Linked DNA regions of Homo sapiens: region 2 is linked to region 1. Evidence: fine-mapped expression QTL. A gene starts in region 1. The other region holds a variant in brackets. All regions are shown on one strand. Distances are from middle to middle. Region 1 holds the start of GZF1 (GDNF inducible zinc finger protein 1). Region 2 holds the start of CSTL1 (cystatin like 1).

The links. PIP is the estimated chance that this variant, and not a neighbour inherited with it, causes the effect.
Region 2: its variant is fine-mapped to the expression of GZF1 in whole blood (TOPMed, PIP above 0.99).

What each region holds. Positions count from the first base shown.
Region 1 is chr20:23,357,027-23,366,298 of GRCh38, forward strand. It overlaps GZF1 (GDNF inducible zinc finger protein 1), which reads left to right and starts at 5,156. Exons shown (of 6, transcript NM_022482.5): 1 at 5,156-5,211; 2 at 7,337-8,721. The coding sequence starts at 7,358. It overlaps LINC01431 (long intergenic non-protein coding RNA 1431), which reads right to left and starts at 1,101. Exons shown (of 3, transcript NR_109884.1): 1 at 929-1,101; 2 at 25-111. RefSeq lists enhancers at 527-616, 807-1,196, 4,622-4,881, 6,696-6,755 and silencers at 1,247-1,436, 4,442-4,531, 4,952-5,441.
Region 2 is chr20:23,435,910-23,445,181 of GRCh38, forward strand. CSTL1 (cystatin like 1) reads left to right here and starts at 3,776. Exons shown (of 4, transcript NM_138283.1): 1 at 3,776-3,897; 2 at 4,235-4,577; 3 at 8,025-8,135; 4 at 8,862-9,021. The coding sequence starts at 4,359. The coding sequence ends at 8,969. RefSeq lists enhancers at 6,015-6,114, 6,517-7,096. The variant G/C (reference allele first, on the strand shown) is at 3,605.

The DNA.
Region 1 (9,272 bases):
AGGAGTCCTAGTGAACCATGTTACCTCTGATCCAGATATTCCCAGAACAACAAGAAATCAAGCTTCTGAATGTGGTCTGTTGCAAGCTTGGAAGGTGCACACCTGTTGCTGCTAATTTGGACAATTTGGGGGAAGAGCAGAGATTTAGATGTTGCTTTGGTCGACCTTAAACACCAGCCCTGTCTCCCCTACCACTTTGCCAAATTAGGGCCCCGTCTCTCTAAAGAGCAAACAGAAAACTGCAGAAAGTTGCTTTGTCCTGTAGACAAGAGGCTGGGACTAGGTAAGAGGAGGGAGCCAGGATGCAAAACTTAAGACCAGCCTGGCCAACAAGGCGAAACCCCGTTTCTACTAAAAATAGAAAAATTAGCTGGGCGTGGTGGCAGGCGCCTGTAATCCCAGCTACTCAGGAAGCTGAGGCAGGACAATCGCTTGAACCCAGGAGGCGGAGGTTGTAGTCAGCCAAGATCGCGCCACTGCATTCCAGTCTGGGCGACAGAGCGAGACTCCGTAACAAAAAACAAACAAACAAACAAAAAATCTTAAACATCACCAACGAGCCTTGTGAGAAATGGTTTAACGTTGTGATACCTTGCCCAATTTTAAGGCAGGTAAAGGTGTGTGTTAAAACTCAACTCTTGAACTGAACCCCAGCTGCCCTTTAGGGCATGCTTAATTTGATGTGGACTGTAACCTCTTTTGCAGCATTGTAGAGATTTGGAATCTGCACATTAGGAAGAGACCCCACGAGGCGGTGGCGTTCTTTCTCGTTCGGAGCTCACACCCCTCCTGGGGAGCCCTCTCCCAACCCGGGCTCCCGGTAAGCGCGGTCGCCGCTCCTCTGAGGGCTGCTCTTCCCTCGCTTCTGAGCCGAGGCCCCCGCGACACGAACGCCACGCCCGAAGCGCTCTTGCCAGGACGTACTGACCGAGGGTAGGCTGCCCAGCCGGGTGGTAACGTTGAGGAAAGGACAGCAGCTTCGCAAAGGAGCTGGGTAAAACCACGCCCAGACCCCGCTGGCCACCAGCCCGAGACCAAGACGCAGGCGGTGGCGCCGGTTTCTCACTCAACCGCAGGTTCCAGCATCCCCGATACGGCCGACGTCATTACCCTGCGACCGCTCAGGACACTTCTGAGGACTCTTTTGACAGCTAGTAATCGCGCGGTGGCGCGACCACGTGACTCCGGCGCCCTAGCCCCGCCCTCCGTCTCCAAGGAGCCCTGGAAGGAGCTATACCAGCGGCTCCAGAAGGCGGGGAGAGGCGGGGCCGGACTCCGGGACAGCCAATGGGCGAGGAGTGCCGCCCAGCCTGACCCACCGGCCGCTCCCTCACGAGCCTGTGGGCGTGCGCCGGCTGTGCAGGTGAGGGGCAGCGAGGGCGCCTAGTGGGCAGGGCGCCGGCGTTGCGCGTGCGTCAGTGTTCTTCCTTGTGCAGTTTAGAATTTGATACATTTCTTTCCAGTCTATTTCTATAGATTTGTTTTCAAATCACATCAGACCCTATGTAAAATAGTGTACCGTCTTTACTCATTATAACATGGTGAGCATTTCCCCAAGCTATTACACATATTTTTAAACATTGTTTTAATGACCGGCATAATAATCCAGTGCTTGGATATATCAAATTCTTCGGCCATCTCCTTATAGGTGAGATTGTTTCCAAAGTTTCACTAATGTAAGTGCACTGCAGTGAACGCCCTTACGTAACAATTGTTCACTCCCGTGTACTTTTCTCGTGCAGAGTTCTACAGCATGAAACACTATATTTAACTTTGTCAGGTTGATGTTTATCAGTGGTTTATTATTGTTTTTATAGTATTCCATTGTCAGTGAAGTATGCCATTCACACTGTCAAGTGAATTGTCTATTTGTATTATTTAAAAAAAAGATCACAAACATAGAAAGGAGAGCTTTATTTCTTTAAACGGTGATAACCTGCAAGGTGGCCCTTCTGACAGGCTGGGAAGCATAGCTTCTGGCAGAAGCTCAAAAGGCAGGCAGCTGGAGGGAAGGGGGCCTAAGACAGGAATTTAAGCTGAAGGACTTAGCCAAGTACACATATGAACAGGCCACAGGAAGAGCTATGAATATTCATGAAACGGGTCCTGACCCATGCTTACTGGACAAACGTGCATGTTACAGGTGACCTATGTTTACTTTGGGGTGGACTCTTAGCATTTACAGGTATTCATGTATTACATTTAGACCCTATAAGTTGAAAGATCTTTTCAGGACACCGATGCACTTGTGTGCAGCCTCTGTAAACCGCCAGAATCAGCCCCTGTTCGGTTGTTTCCCATCAGGAAAAAGTTACTGCAGTCAGTCTCTGGTCCAATCAAAGCAGTAATTATTTGTGGAAGTGGTGGGGCTGGGGCAGGGGGCGTGTCAGTCAGCATGTGGAGGTGGATGAAAAGCACATTGTTTGAATATTGCTTATCTAGAGGCCAGTGCTTGTTTGGCTGCCAGAGAATAAAAACCTTGTGGCAGTTAAGGCATAGTTTCTTCTTGAAGTGTAGAGGTGCATGACAACCCTTGCCAGGCATGGCCCTTCATTCTTTATCATTTAGTATTGCCACAAAGAGTCTGTGAGTCTTATGACCTCTATTTTTAAAGCTATTAAGACACTCAACTAAAGCAATCCTTTCAGTATTGAATGGATAAGCTAGCATTATGTTATGCTAGCTAACATAATCGGAGACGGAGTCTCATTCTATTGCCCAGGCTGGAGTGCAATGGCATGATCGAAGCTCACTGCAACCTCCATCTCCTGGGTTCAAGTGATTCTCCTGCCTCAGCCTCCTGAGCATCTGGGATTACAAGTGCCTGTCACCACTCCCGGCTAATTTGGTTTTGTTTTTTTGAGACAGAGTTTTCCTCTGTTGCCCAGGCTGGAATGCAGTGGTGCAATCTCCGCTCACTGCAACCTCTGCCTCCCATGTTCAAGCGATTCTCCTGCCTCAGTCTCCTGAATAGCTGGGATTAAAGGCATGTACCACCTCGCCCAGCTAATTTTTGTATTATTAGCAGGGAAAGGGTTTCACCATGTTGTCCAGGCTGGTCTTGAACTCCTGACCTCAGGTGATCCGCCCACTTCAGCCTCCCAAAGTGCTAGAATTACAGGTGTGAGCCACCGCACCTGGCCTAATTTTTGTATTTTAGCAGAGACGGGGTTTCACCATGTTGGCCAGGCTGGTCTTCAACTCCTGACCTCAAGTGATCGGCCCGCCTCGGCCTCCCAAAGTGCTGGGATTACAGGCGTGAGCCACCGTGCCTGACCACCTTTTTGTAATGCAAAACAAAATCATAAAACACGATTCTGGGCCTGCTGGAGCCATGGGTGAAAACTGCGTTCATTCCAATTTCTTCAAATCATGGAATGCAAATATAGAGAGTCGGCCTAAGAAAGATTTCTGTCACTCATTCATTCTTCAAATATTTATTGAGCACCTACTATGTGTGGGAAGCTGGCTCCTGTTCAGGAAATATAATTAAAAGTACAATCTCCCAACCCTCTTCAGAAAGGTAGTGGAGAAAGAAAACACTTTGTAATTGAATAAGCATTAAACTAGAATGTGATACCCATCACAGGCAATCCATTAAGAGACTGCAAAGACAGAACGAAATCTCACTCTTTTGTGCAGCCAAGCAATCTATTACACACATTTTCAAGATAAACAATAACTAGCTCTCAAGGGAACTTGGCAGCATTTTTCATCACACACAGTTCATCTAACCTGATATTTGGGATGATCCTCTGTGTTAGCCAATTGGCTTTATCTAGAGGAAAAAGAAACTTGTATCTTTATGATATGAGATAATTTTGTAAGTTGGAGCAAAGGGCCCACTGAAGTTAGGCTCCTACTCCCCCATTAAAACTGGGAGACAGGGGCATTAACTCCCTTGATACTTAAAGAGATGGCTCCTAGGTCCTAGAAAAAGACATATCTAGGTTATAAAGCGCACAAAAAGGCCTAACTAGTCTTCAAAAGGATTTATATATTTCAAAGAGAGGAAAAAGTACTTACACTAATTACCAATTTTCTAAAAGTAAATGTTCGAAGAAAAAGGGAGGGAAATCTCATATTTTCAACAGGAAGTAGTAAACCTTATTTTAAATTTGTATTTGTCCTGACAGTCCCCAAACATTACAAACTCAACGTGTCGGTAAGACAAGGCTGAGTTAACTGCTGGCCACAGTAAGGGACAGCATGACCTGGCAAAGCTTTACCAATGGCTGGGAGCAAAAGGCAAGGTCAGTTTATTGAGAACTGGAAGTCTGACTCAAGGAAGGTGTTTCAAAGCGGGCTTTAGTTAGTATTGAGCAAGAATTGGTGGAAACAGCAAGATTTCGAGGAGTCAGCGAATCTTAGGGAATCAATTGTGCTTTCCCCGAAGAGTGGATGGGTCTCTGGGGAAGTTCTGTAGTGAACAAAGCTTTCGCCCGAATGGGAACTCCTGGAAATAAAGCCCTGCAGTAAAGACGGCAGGGTGCGGTCCCGGCTCCTGGCGCGCCGAGCCCCCCAGCAGGGCGGGGGCACCGCGGAAGAAGCGCCCCAGAGGAGAGCGCCGCGCCGAGCCCCGCCTGGCGCCAGTTCTCCAGCGCCCGTGGAGGCATCTGCGCCCCTAGTAGCCAAGGTGAGTACCAGCTCCAAGCCCGGCTTTCCGCGAGGTCCCTCGCGTGGCCACCGTGCCCTAAGGGTGCGCTCGGCCTCGGGGACGTGAGCAGCTCTTAGTGGGAAGCCAGCTGCAGGCCCTGACCGCAGGCTGCTGGGGCCCGGAAGCGCTGGCGCCTTGCGGCCAGAAGCCCGGAATGGACGCGAAAGTGACCACGCGAATCTGACGCTCACGTGACTTTTCGCGACTGGCCCCGCCCCCCTGTGGCGTGCCGCAGCGCAGACGTCGCTGTCTCCTGCGCAGGCGCAGGCCTTGGCTCGCGGCGGGTGACGCAATGCGGCGGGTGACGCAATCCGGCGTCGCCAGTCAGTCGCGCGGCCAGATCAGGTAACTGCCCGAACCGCTCCGCCGCCCGACGTGTGGCTCAGCCCCTTCCTCAGCCCCGCCAGGGGCGGGGCCGGCCGCGGGAGGGGAGGGGCCTGCAGCGACCAATCGGCGGTGCCCGCGCAGGGTGCTACGCCACGCCCAGCCGGGCCGGCCGTTCCTACCGGCCTGGTCCAGCGGACAGCGGCTGCAGCGGGGGCGCCGGCTGGGAGGTGAGTGCGCGGCCCGTAGGCCTGGCTCCGGCCCCTCGCCGCCCGCCGCCGCCTCTTTGTCCGCGCGCCCCGGCTGCTCTGTGGACCTGCGCGTCTCGGGGATGCGGGAGCGGGGGCAGGGGGCGGCCCGAGGGCCTGATCCACGCGGCCCCGGATGCCCGCGTCGGGAGGCGGCGCGTCGGGCCGAGGAGGGGCTTCTCTGTGGCTGCAGTAGTTTGTTCTCTGGGTCGTCTTTGGAGTGGCCGAGCGGCGTCCGGGCGCTGGGGCGGCCAAGTGGCGCGGGAAGGGTGGGAGGTGCCGTGAGGGCGGCGAGGACAGCGGCGGATTTAAGCCCCACTGGAAACCCCGGCCCTTGTGGCCGTGGACTGGGCTGCGGGTAGCAGCGTCTCCTGGAAGGGCTCTGGCCCCGTGAGCCTCGGGGATTCAGGGGCCGCCGACGTTGGTGCAGATGCCGGGCGCACTGGGAGGCGGCCGGAATGCCAATGAGATTCGGCGGATACGCAGCTGTCACCGGCCGCAGACTGCCCTGTCGCCACCTCCAGTGCCTGCACTCCAGTAGCCAAGCAACATAGGAAATCGCGCTCAGAACCCACTTTGTTGATTGAGAAATCAGGTCTCCTCGAGGGCCCTGTTGGCAGAGGTCTGGGGAAGTCAGGGCATCAGGCTGAGAGAGCCCTCTGCAGTCTTGTTTCCCCAGGCTGGGGCTGGGACCACTGAAACCCCAGTGGCTCTATAAGAGCCCCACTCTTATAGATCCCTTCCTTAGGCTTTGTCAGTGTTCTCACAGTTTTACTGGGGCGTCTCCTTCAGGCGACATTGATCAAGCCTCATAGGTACCTGTTTACAGCGGAACTCCCAGAGGGCAGTCTTTTCCATGTTTGAGGGACTGCTAGTTGTGGGGAGCGGTCTCATTGATGAGACTGGAGAAGGGGAGAGGGGTGGGACTAGTTTATCAGGGAAGATGATGACAACTTTTTTTCTAGACACGTTGAATCCGAGGTGACATCTGTGGTCTGGCCGAAGGAGGCTAGAAGGAAGGCATGTGCTTTGGATGGATGGAAACAGGAATCAAAGAGGAAGGTAGATTCAGGAGCTGAAGGGCAGGGAGAAAACACATTCAGGGAGTTTGTGGCAAAGCAGCAGAAATGACGATGGGGTGACGGTATCTGGAGGCCTTAGGTGGGGTTGGTGAAATTTGCATGCCCGCTGCAGTGGAAAGATTTAGGGGCTAAAGATAGCCCTTTGCCTTTGGCAAGGCTGAGGGGAAGAGTGTGTTGAGTAGTCTGAGTTGAATCCGGGCACCAGGCCCTGGCTCATGTCCCAACCAGCCATTGACTGTTACCTTGATAGGTCCTCATCTATGAAATGGGGATCACTGTAGCACCTTGGCCTATGTGTGGGAAACCAATAAACTAGCCAACAAGTTTCAGGCTCATGGAACCCTGGTAACAGCCGGTCAGCCTTCTTCAGAGGAGGAAATGGGTTCAGAGAAGTTGCTTGCTCAAAGTAGCACAGCTTGTAAAAGCTGTGGAACTTAACATTATTTCAGTAGAGTAACAATAATTCAAATTCTGAGGAGTTTAGGATGTTGGGAATGGGCGATGAATTGTGAACTACTTTTCCAAGAAGTTTTCCTCATGGAAAGTAGTTATTTAGTTGGTTCTTTTCAAAGGCAGAAATGATTCCCTGAGGTTTTGGATTTGCTCCCAGATGGTGGTGGCTATGTGTTTTAATTATCTGGTTTCCTGATCAGAGAACTAGACATTATTGTTGCCATGAATTCTTTTACAGTTTTGGGGACTATGTAAGCAAATTAGACAGTGACCTTGGTGAGCAAATTACTGTGTTAATGTATTTCACTAATCACAACTTCCATCATTTGTTTATCACTGGAGGAAACCTTAGAATACACTATTTTTCATGCCAATTTATTACCTTAGGAAAATGCATGAGGAACCTCACTTTAGAAAACTGCTAAGAAGTAAAATGTCATTCGAATCTTTACCTGAGTAAAGCTAGGTTGTTAATGAGTCTATATCCTCTCAAGTACTGAAGGAATCCTCATAAATTTTAGTCCTTTTGCATCAGTGGTTGCTCATGCATAATTCTTGTTTCTTTTTCAAAGCTGTTTTTGGAAGGAAGAAAGATGGAAAGCGGTGCAGTTCTGCTGGAATCCAAATCCTCCCCATTTAACCTACTGCATGAGATGCATGAGCTTCGCCTCCTGGGTCACCTGTGTGACGTGACAGTCAGCGTGGAGTATCAGGGTGTCCGCAAAGACTTCATGGCCCACAAGGCAGTGCTGGCTGCCACCAGCAAGTTTTTTAAGGAAGTGTTCCTTAATGAGAAGAGTGTGGATGGTACTAGGACTAATGTCTACTTAAATGAAGTGCAGGTTGCTGACTTTGCTTCATTTCTTGAGTTTGTCTACACTGCAAAGGTACAGGTGGAAGAAGATCGGGTGCAGCGAATGCTGGAAGTGGCTGAAAAGCTGAAATGTTTGGATTTATCAGAAACTTGTTTTCAATTAAAGAAACAGATGTTAGAGTCAGTACTTTTGGAGTTGCAAAATTTCTCAGAGTCTCAGGAGGTGGAGGTGAGCAGTGGCTCCCAAGTTAGTGCTGCTCCTGCCCCCAGGGCAAGTGTGGCCACCGATGGCCCTCACCCCAGTGGTCTCACGGATTCCTTGGACTACCCAGGAGAGAGAGCCAGCAATGGCATGTCTTCAGATTTGCCACCGAAGAAGTCCAAGGACAAACTAGACAAGAAGAAAGAGGTAGTTAAACCTCCCTACCCTAAAATCAGGAGAGCTAGTGGAAGGCTGGCTGGGAGGAAGGTCTTTGTGGAGATCCCTAAAAAGAAATATACGAGAAGACTCCGAGAGCAGCAGAAAACTGCTGAGGGTGATGTGGGGGACTACAGGTGTCCCCAGGACCAAAGCCCGGACAGGGTGGGCACGGAGATGGAGCAGGTTTCCAAAAATGAGGGTTGCCAGGCAGGTGCTGAGTTGGAGGAATTGTCAAAGAAAGCAGGGCCGGAGGAGGAAGAGGAGGAGGAGGAGGAGGACGAAGAAGGGGAGAAGAAGAAGAGCAACTTTAAGTGCAGCATTTGCGAGAAGGCGTTTCTGTATGAGAAGAGCTTCCTGAAGCACAGCAAGCACCGCCACGGCGTGGCCACCGAGGTGGTGTACCGCTGCGACACCTGCGGCCAGACCTTCGCCAACCGCTGCAACCTGAAGAGCCACCAGCGCCACGTGCACAGCAGCGAGCGCCATTTCCCATGCGAGCTGTGCGGGAAGAAGTTCAAGCGCAAGAAGGACGTGAAGCGGCACGTGCTGCAGGTGCATGAGGGCGGCGGCGAGCGGCACCGCTGCGGCCAGTGCGGCAAGGGCCTGAGTTCCAAGACAGCGCTGCGGCTGCACGAGCGCACACACACGGGAGACCGGCCCTACGGCTGCACCGAGTGCGGCGCCAGGTTCTCGCAGCCGTCCGCGCTCAAGACGCACATGAGGTACGCGGGGAGCCGTCCGGAGGGGTCCCTGCGCACTGGAAGGGTGTGTCAAGCACTGAGGTCGTCCTGGGATTTGATGTCTCACTGCTTAATTTCTCCGCTCCAAACCTGGGGGCTTATTTCGAGACAGCGTTTAGTTCTCTGTCAAGGTACAGGGGCTGCGAGTGATGGCTCTGCTCCCTTGTTCTGAGACCCCTGGGGCGCCCCTGCTGGCCGGGACGTCCCTCTGGTGGGACCGCGACAGCGGCCGCGGGCTCGCCCCACCGTGCTGGAGGAAGAGTTGGGCCTCGTTACCTTTATTTCTCCTTTCCTGACTCTTCGTTTAGATCTTGGGGTTCTGTGACCATCCGGGTCCCACAGTCTCAGTAGAGACCTCAGTGAGATGCCATTTCAGGCTTTAGGACTCGTCTCTGGTCTTTTGGTTCTCAGGCTTGGAAGGAGTGCCATCTAGGCAGTCTGCACTCCAGAATCAGGACAGACAGTGCTTTCTGTTTCTTAATATGTTTCTGAGCTGCAGGTGTGTGGTGATGTTTTTAAATAAGTTTTCTTAT
Region 2 (9,272 bases), 79 kb after region 1:
CCTGCTTTTTCTTTGCTTTCAAAATGGAACCTGATGACTATTTAAGAGCTGGTAAACAGATATTGTGTTGTGGAAAACGTCTGCAGAAAGGAGACCAAAGGCTGGATGAGGACGATGACCTCCCCACAAGCCCCTCCACTCTGGGCATCCTTGGCCTCTTGTGACACGCTCTCACTTTTTAAGCCTTGTGATTTCTCATGTTTCTGTGTCTGGAAAGAGAAAATGTACCCTGGGACCTTTGGAGCGATGCCAGCTTGGAGCCATCTGTAGCACCGCCTTGTTTGCTGACTTTCTGTGCGCCTGCTGCTGGCCTGCTCCCCAGAATCAGAAGGCATTTCCAGCCAAGATCAGCCATGTTCTTCTGCTGCTGCCCTGGGGGCGAGGGCTCAGGGCTGCAGTGGGAGCTGCTGCTGGCAGCATGGACTGTGCTCCCCTACCCCTGCCCTGCAGCCACAGTTGGGAGATTCCTCAAGCAGGCACAGACTGCTGACCATTCCTTCCTGGGCCATGTTTGGAGGGTGCCCAGCAGCAGGTGGGTCGCAAATAGATTTGCTTTCTGCCTGGGTTATCTCCAGGTCAGCAGCCAGCCTAGAACAGGATTATTTAGGGGACAAAGAAGAGCTTGTCAAATAGTGCTACATGCAAAAAAAAAAAAAAAAAAAAAAAATAGAGTGGAGAGAAGAAACCAACCGAGATCAGCCGTGTTGTTTACAGAGGATTATTTGTTTCCCCAGAATGATCAGAAAATTTCAGATAGCAGATGTCGGCTGATGAAGAGAGTGTCACAGTGTGACCCTTTCCCAGCACCAATGCCATATCTACTGGTGAAGGAGTGATGAAGAACTACAGCCAGGAAGCTCCCTGTCTGCAGGTTCCTCAGCCCACATAAGCAGAGCCTGCTGGGATAAAACACATCATCATGTTCTTGTTTATTTCCTGCTTCTCCTAGGAGCTGGACTGATAAAGAAATCCTGAGCTTGGTCGTCAACAGACAGAACCAGGAAGTTGTGCAGCTCATAGGGGGCCTCTGTGGGACACACACCATCTCGCCCACACAGCACCCAGCCACGGGTTGATCCAACAGGAATCCCACACTTGCCATCATGCCTGGTCCAGCAGTGGCCTGTTACCAGGTTCAGCTTATGAGACAGGAGGCCCAGTTTGCTGGACTCCTGGGAAACATACTTTTTCTTTCTTTCTTTTTTTTTTTTTTTTTCAGACGGGGTCTTACTCTGCTGGGCAGGCTGGAGTGCAGTGGCACAATCACAGCTCACTGCATTCTAGACCTCCAGGGCTCAAGCGATCCTTTCATCTCAGCCTCCAGAGTTGCTGAGACTACAGGCATGTGCTCCCCGGCTAATTTTTGTGTTTTTTAGTAGAGATGGGGTTTCACCATGTTGGCCAGGCAGGTCTTGAACTCCTGGCCTCATGTGATCTGCCCACCTTGGCCTCCCCAAAGTGTTGGGATTACAGGTGTGAGCCACGGCGCCTGGCCAAATTGCACATATTTAAAGTGTACAATTTGATGAAATTTGTCATACGTATGCACCTGTGGAATTATCACTACAATTCATACAACAGACATATCTATCACCTGAAGTTTTCTCATGCCCTTCTGCAATCCTTCTCTCCTATGCTCCTTATTCCACAGACATGAGCAGACCTCATATTTCCTGTTATTCCATGGTCTAACCAGAGCTCATATTTTTCCCTTCTTTTATTGGCAAGAACAGGGCTCCTATTTGTTATAGCCAGCACTCCTAATTTACTCTTGTTCCACGGAAATACTCAGGCCCCTATTTTTCCATTGTTTCATGGCAGTAACCAGACAACAACTAAGCCCTCTATTTCCCTTTGTTCTGTCGCCCAGGCTGGAGTGCTTGGTGTGATCTCAGCTCACTGCAGCCTCGACCTCTCTTGGGCTCAGGTGATCCTCCCACCTCAGCCTCCAGAGTAGCTGGGACTACAGATGTGGGCCACCATGTCTGGCTAATTTTTGTATTTTCTGTGGAAACGGGGTTTCACCATGTTGCCCAGGCTGGTCTGGAACTCCTGGGCTGAAGCAATCCTCCTAGCCTCAGCCTCCCAGGTGTCAGCCACTATGCTCTGCCCCTATTCCATGCTGTAACCAAGCTCCCTGTCTCCCTTTATACATGTACCTTACCAGAATCATATTTTTTTCCTGATTCCATGTCCACAGAGTCAGAAATCAGCATTTTGCTGACACAAGCTAAGGAACGCCAGTGTGACCTGTTAGGCGCCTCACATCTCTTTCTGTGGCATAGTCAGGGTCTATGTTTTCCTTTTCTTCAATTAAAATTGCCAGTGACTCATTTTCCTCTTTATGGACACAACCAACTCCCATATTTCTTAAGCAGATTTATTGTTTATGCTTTGAGCCCCACATCCATGGGGTTTCTAATATGGCCCACCCAATGTTATTTTTCCTCTCTATGGGCCTCAGCCTGATGGGGGTATCCCAGGTGTCTGGGGCATGCTGAGACGGCACAGGTCTGTGTGGCTTCCCGGATTACTCGGAATCCTTCATTATCTATTCTACAGCAAGTGGCCCTCGGCAGCTCAGGCTCAGGGAATTTCAAATGTATCACCTCCACCGGCTGGACAAGTCCTCTCAAGACAGGCTCTGGGGCCAAGGGAGGATGTTGTGACTGGTGCTAGCAACATTGTCATGATGGAAGGTGGCCTGGCTTCCGGGACATGACAGGCCATGGGTGAAGTGTGGGTTCAGAGTCACAGAAGAATCACGAAGAAGACATTCTTATGCACCTGACACCTGACTTGGGAGCAGGTTCTTTGCCTACATCCAGTTAGTCTCTACCACAATTCAAGTGGAGTCTTTCTCCCCATTCTCATATTACAGGTGAAGAAACCCAGCTTAGGGAGATGAGGTAACTCTCCCAGAGTCCCCAGCGAAGGACTTGAGCCAGGACAGTTGGATCCTAAGTCTCCTGCTTCCCCTCCCTCAGCACGCTACTCCTCACAGAACAACGCTTTATTTAGTTTTGGACATTTTAACCTTTATTTTGGAATAATTTCAGACTTACACAAAGGCTGCAAAAATAGCATAAAGCATTCTCGTATACCCTTCATTCCACTTCCCCAAATGTTAACATATTATACAATCACAGTACAACGGTGAAAACTAGAATATCAACATTCACACAATACTATTAACTAATCTGCAGATTTTATTCACATTTCATCAACTATTCCACTAATGTTTTTTTCTGGTAGGATTCCATTTAAGGTGTTTTTTTTTGTTTGTTTTTTGTTTTTTTTCTGAGACACAGTCTCGCTCTGTCACCTAGGCTGGAGTGCAGCGGCACCCTCCCGGCTCACTTCAGCCTCCACCTCCTGGGTTCAAGTGATTCTCCTGCCTCAGCCTCCCAAGTAACTGGGACTACAGGTACACACCACCACACCCAGCTAATTTTGTATTTTTAGTAGAGATGGGGTTTCACCATGTTGGCCAGGCTGGTCTCGAACTCCTGATCTCTGGTGATTCACCCACCTCAGCCTCCCAAAGTGCTGGGATTACAGGCGTGAGCCACCGCGCCCAGCCAGCAAATGTTTTTAAAATAGG[G/C]CATTCATGGGCTTTTGGGGGTAAGTGACACCTAATCTTCAGGGGTCTGCGGATAATTTCTAAATGGGGCTCACAGTTTATTCCTCCCTCATAGGGAGGCTGCAATTACCTCACAAAGCTCCACTAGGGTCACAACAAGATAGCAAAAGCCAGTGCAGGGCCTGCAGGTATAGGGGGATCCTGCAAGCAGAAATCTGTGGTGGGCGGGCGGCAGGTGAGCAAGGAGAACGTGTCTGTAAAGGAAGCACAGGGAACAGGTGGTGGCTTTGTAAGACAGTTGGAACCCAAGGAAGGTAAGAATAATGTACCACTCCTTGCTCCATATGACTGCTTCCTTATATCTCAGTTCAGATATTACCTTCTCCGTAAGGCCGCCTCCCTTCCTGTAAGTGATGCTTCTCTATCTACAACCCCAGCTCTTATTGCAGAGCACTGTAGGGGCTGTTCTGGGGCTTTTCTTCCCTGAGACATGTGAAGGCAGGGAGAGGGGCTTGCACGCCTTAGCAGGTGTTTAAAAATTTTGCTTGCCTGGATCACCAAAGAACTGAATGGGTGGTGTAAATGGGTAGAAAATGAACTGGCTGGAAACTGAGTGACAAGGTTCAGGTCTGAATCTCTGTTTAAATGCAGGCAGGCCATCCCCCAGGAAAGCCTATGTTGGTGAGGGTTATGATGGGAGAATGAGTGAACTGCAGCCTGGCACCACCACACCCTGGAAGGTGCAGTTGGGAAGAAAGTTTCTGAGGCTGTAGACATGGGGATCGGATGCTGGAGAAACCCCCTGCTGCTGCTGATTGCCCTGGTCCTGTCAGCCAAGCTGGGTCACTTCCAAAGGTGGGAGGGCTTCCAGCAGAAGCTCATGAGCAAGAAGAACATGAATTCAACACTCAACTTCTTCATTCAATCCTACAACAATGCCAGCAACGACACCTACTTATATCGAGTCCAGAGGCTAATTCGAAGTCAGATGCAGGTTTGTACCTTGCTCTCCCAAGACATCAGCAGGCCCTGTTCTTGCCAGTTCAGACATGTGAGGATTCTGGGGTAGCTCCCAAGAGAACCAAGTGGTGGTCCTCCGTGAGGTCCCAAGGGGGAAGCATCTTCACTTGTAGCAGGTACATTGTAGAGTTGTTCAGATCCCAGAATGTCCTTAGCCATGCTTCCAAAATGCTTTCCTAAGGACTGGCATGAACTCTAACTCCAATACACTTAGAGGCAAAAGTGTTCACTGAGGATTAAACTCTTTTTTTTTTTTTTTTTGAGATGGAGTTTCGCTCTTGTTGCCCACGCTGGAGTGCAATGGCATGATCTTGGCTCACTGCAACCTCCTCCTCCCAGGTTCAAGTGATTCTCCTGCCTCAGCCTCCCAAGTAGCTGAGATTACAGGTACGTACCACCACACCTGGCTAAATTTTTTGTATTTTTAGTAGAAACCGGTTTTCACCATGTTAGCCAAGCTGGTCTCGAACTCCTGACCTCAGGTGATCTGCCCACCTCGGCCTCCCAAAGTGCCGGAGTTACAGGCGTGAGATACCACGCCCGGCCAGCTCTTTTTCCTTGGGAAGAAATGCCTTTCATTCTGATATTTGACCCTGCCGGAGTGACAGCAAGGATAATTTTGCTCCCTTTAAAGTTCTCATTTGGCAAAATACAAATATTCTCTGTAGGCCTGTAGCCCCCAATATTTTTTCAATGTGTAGGGTTGTAAAATTCAAAACTGGGTGTTCTGTGTTATACAAACTTCAAATTATACAGAGGGTTTATTCTGGAAGTGGAGAGGATGTGAGAGATAGGGTTCAGCCAGATCACCTCACCTTCTGTTTTACATATAAAATTTCTCTGAAATATATCAATTGAAGGATAATAGAAGAAAGAAAAGTTGTTAGGGAACCCCTTTTATTGGTACAACATTTCCTCAAGGTCAGATAATAAACTATACAGTCCCCTTGGTGTCCATGAGGAATTGGTTCCAGGACCCCTCAGGATGCCCACATCCATGGATTCTGAAGTCTTTTATGTAAAATGGAATAGTGTTTCCACATAACCTATGCACATCTTCCCACATATGGTAAATCATTTCTAGATTAATTATAATAAGTGGTACAGTGTAAATGCTATGTAGATAATTATTATACTGTACTGTTTAGGGAATAATTACAAGAAAAAATGTTCAGTATACAGGCAACCATACATTTTTTTTTCCTGAATATTTTGATGCACGGTTGTTTGCATCCACAGATATGGAGCTCGTAAGTACAGAGGGCTGACTGTAGAAGTTGGGGCAGCAACAATGCTACGTCCTAGTTCAATTAGCTAGATTTGGGAAAACACAACTGGCTATGGGAAAGCTCTCTCGCCAGAGAGTAAGGCAGCTGGAACAGAGAGAACCGGCAAGGCGGGAGGGCAGCGTGGGGAGGACCAGTCAGCATAGGTCAAATCCTCATCCCAATGCAGACTGTCCCACAGGCTGGCTCAGTGAGGCACTTCTACCACAAGATGGCGATGTTGCCCATTTGGTTCTTGGTTCTTCCACAATTGGTTAAGACCCCAAGGAGGCTTGCCTTGTGAAATCAATCCATCACCATTAAGTTAGCTGTTAAGGAATAATGATGAGCATTTGATGTCATTCACATTGATAAGCAGACAGAGCAGGCGTGCCTCCTGGTAGCTGGGTGATCTTGGCATGGGCCTCTGGGCACCCCCACACCCATATGACCATTGTGTCTGTCCTTACACCTCACAGAGGGGACAAGAGCAGGCGTGGAGGGCTGCCAGGTGCCTCTGGGGGCTTCACGCCCAGCTCCTCCCAACTGAGGCTCCTGGTCAAGTGACATCCAGACTCTCCAGACCTCAGTTTCTTCACCTGCAAAGTGCCTCAGAATAGGAGGGAAGCACTTAGCACAGTGCCAACATCTGGTAGCACTTATAAAAAATCTTTGCTGTTATTATGACTACTCCTGTCATTATCGAACAAATAAGTCTAATAACGAATAACACTTTGCACACTGGAATGTCAGTTACAGTGATGACGGGTGGTTTAGTTTTTTCTTACATTCTGAGCATGCTGAAAGTCAGTGTGACCGTGCCTGGGGCAGCCCTGCAAATGCCCATGCATGGATGGCCCCCACATGTTTGGGTGCGGGGAGGCTGGTACTGCCCTCAGGTCTAGGCTCCCTGCTGCCCTGTCCCAGTGTTTGCTAAGGGTGTCTTCCTCCCAGGAGCAGTGTGGGCACTCTCTGCCTCAGTCACCACCCCAGAGATGACCAAGCCCTCTCACTGGGCTTGACCAGTGACAGGGCAAGGCAACAGGGAGCTTCCCAGAGCTTCTCCTGCACCGGTGAAGATCCACTAATCCACATATCTACTCAGGAATCCAGCTCAGAACCCGACAGGGAACCGTAACCCCCAAGCTCTCTGTTAGTCTCCCTTCTGGGCGTAGGGCCTCCCTGCCCACAAGGGCTTTTCCAGGCTCCAACCCCTGCAGGCTTCATGGCCTCACACTTGATCACAAGTGAAAGAGCCATGGGGAAATCCCTGGCATGCGTTCTCCATGGCTCGTGTACCCACCATGCCTCCTTCCTTCATTTCTGTACACGCTAGGAGGAAACTGGCATTATTCTCCTCATTTCCTAGATGAGGAAACTGAGATTCAGTAAAATTTACAGAGTCTGCAGGGGGTAAAGCCAGATTTTGTGTTCTGTCACTCTCCTAACACTGAATCTGCTTCAAAGTAACACTGCAGACACTTTGCTAAAAGATGTAATAACTTATAATTATGAAAATATTTAAAATTTATTTTATGCATTCAGGGAAATGCAAGCTTCCATTTAGCCCACATAACAACTCCAGAAGCAGGCACAATTGTGGTTTGTAGTTTGTAAGTGAAAAAGCTGAGGATGCTAAGTAACTTGCTCAAGGTCACAGTCACTAAATGGAAAATGCATGCCCCAAATCAATTCGATTCCAAAACTGTTTTTAACTGTATTGCTAAGCTGCCTTCCACTAGGTTGGTCAGGAAGGATAGTAGAGACAGAGGAAATGGCAGAAGGGACTGGGGGGGTGGGGACAAGATGCTGGCTCTGTTGCATTTTGAAGGCCACATCTGCCAGCCTGGGAGTGGCCTGTGGTGGCCAGGCAACCCAGCTTGATGTTGCCTCTTCTGTCCTGAGGATGGAACAGAGGCAGGTGAGAAGCTTTCTGTGGCTGCTGCAGCAAAACCAACCTATGACCAGGGGCTTTGGCTGCCATTGCCCTCCCTCCAGCCAGAAGTAAGGAGAAGGGAGCCATGCTTTTGGTGGGTAAGCTCCGCGAACAAGAACTGTGGCCCTGGGAGCTTTACTCTCAGTCCTAGCTTCTCCAGGAGAGGGTCAGCCACTGGATGCTTGGAGTCCACACTAACAGCACAACTGATTCTCGGCAGCTGACGACGGGAGTGGAGTATATAGTCACTGTGAAGATTGGCTGGACCAAATGCAAGAGGAATGACACGAGCAATTCTTCCTGCCCCCTGCAAAGCAAGAAGCTGAGAAAGGTGTGTAGTGGAAGTCATCCCAAAGGGACTTGTGAAGTGAATATTTTAAAAAGCAACAGCTAGAAGTTGGCAGTTTTGCCACTTGTGTGGATTGGGGCCAGCTGGGGCCCAGCCCTGGGGCTGTCTGGCACCTCCTGAGGCACCTGGGTGAAGGAGGGAGGCTTTATATTTGGGCTGGTACAGCCCTGCACCCAGGCCTCTGGTTGCCTGGACCCTTCTCCAACCTGGCCTGCTCCCCAGACCCTCTGCGTGAAAGCAGTGGTTCCCTTTCCTTGGGGTCCTTCTTCTGTCTTCTTTCTCCCTCTCCAGGTCTCTAAGGTTGTCCAATTTCCTCCTTGTTCCCTTCTATTTTTCCTGGTCCATGAGTGGCACCCCTTGAAAGCTGGCAGATACAAGGGGCTCCCCCATGCCTGGGGAGGTGCAGGAGGAGGTAACGATGCTATTGCTCCTTGCTGGCCTGCCTGGCCCACATGACAGGGTCCGGCCAGGCCATAGACTCCAGGTTCACCTGCTGTGGGTCCCAAGTGGCTGGGTAGGGGGAAGACAGGGTGACATTCCTGTTCCAGACTGGCACTCCTTTCTGTTTCTACCCTTGACTGTGGGCAGCTCCCCTCTCTGCCCATGGGGTTCATGAGCAGCCACAGGGAGAGACCTGGGGAACAGGTGCCTGTTGCTTGCCTTTGAAAAATACTTCCCCCAAAGTCTGTTTTCTTTCTTCTTCTACAGAGTTTAATTTGCGAGTCTTTGATATACACCATGCCCTGGATAAACTATTTCCAGCTCTGGAACAATTCCTGTCTGGAGGCCGAGCATGTGGGCAGAAACCTCAGATGAGGGCTCATATGATTGAGTTGTGCACTGGCTGTTATTAAACTGTAAAGGATCATGTCTCCCTCATTGGGGTCTTATTACACATGCACACACACACATGCACACACAGAGTGTACACGTACACACACTTGCACATACTTACCTTCACAACCCACACACACAATGCTCATACTCACGACACCCTCACACTCTCACCACTCACATACATGCACATTCACTTTAACAGCCTCACACACTCATCCACCCGCCCACCCACTCACTCCTACATGTCAAGCACATGCACACTCACTCGCACACACATTCAGT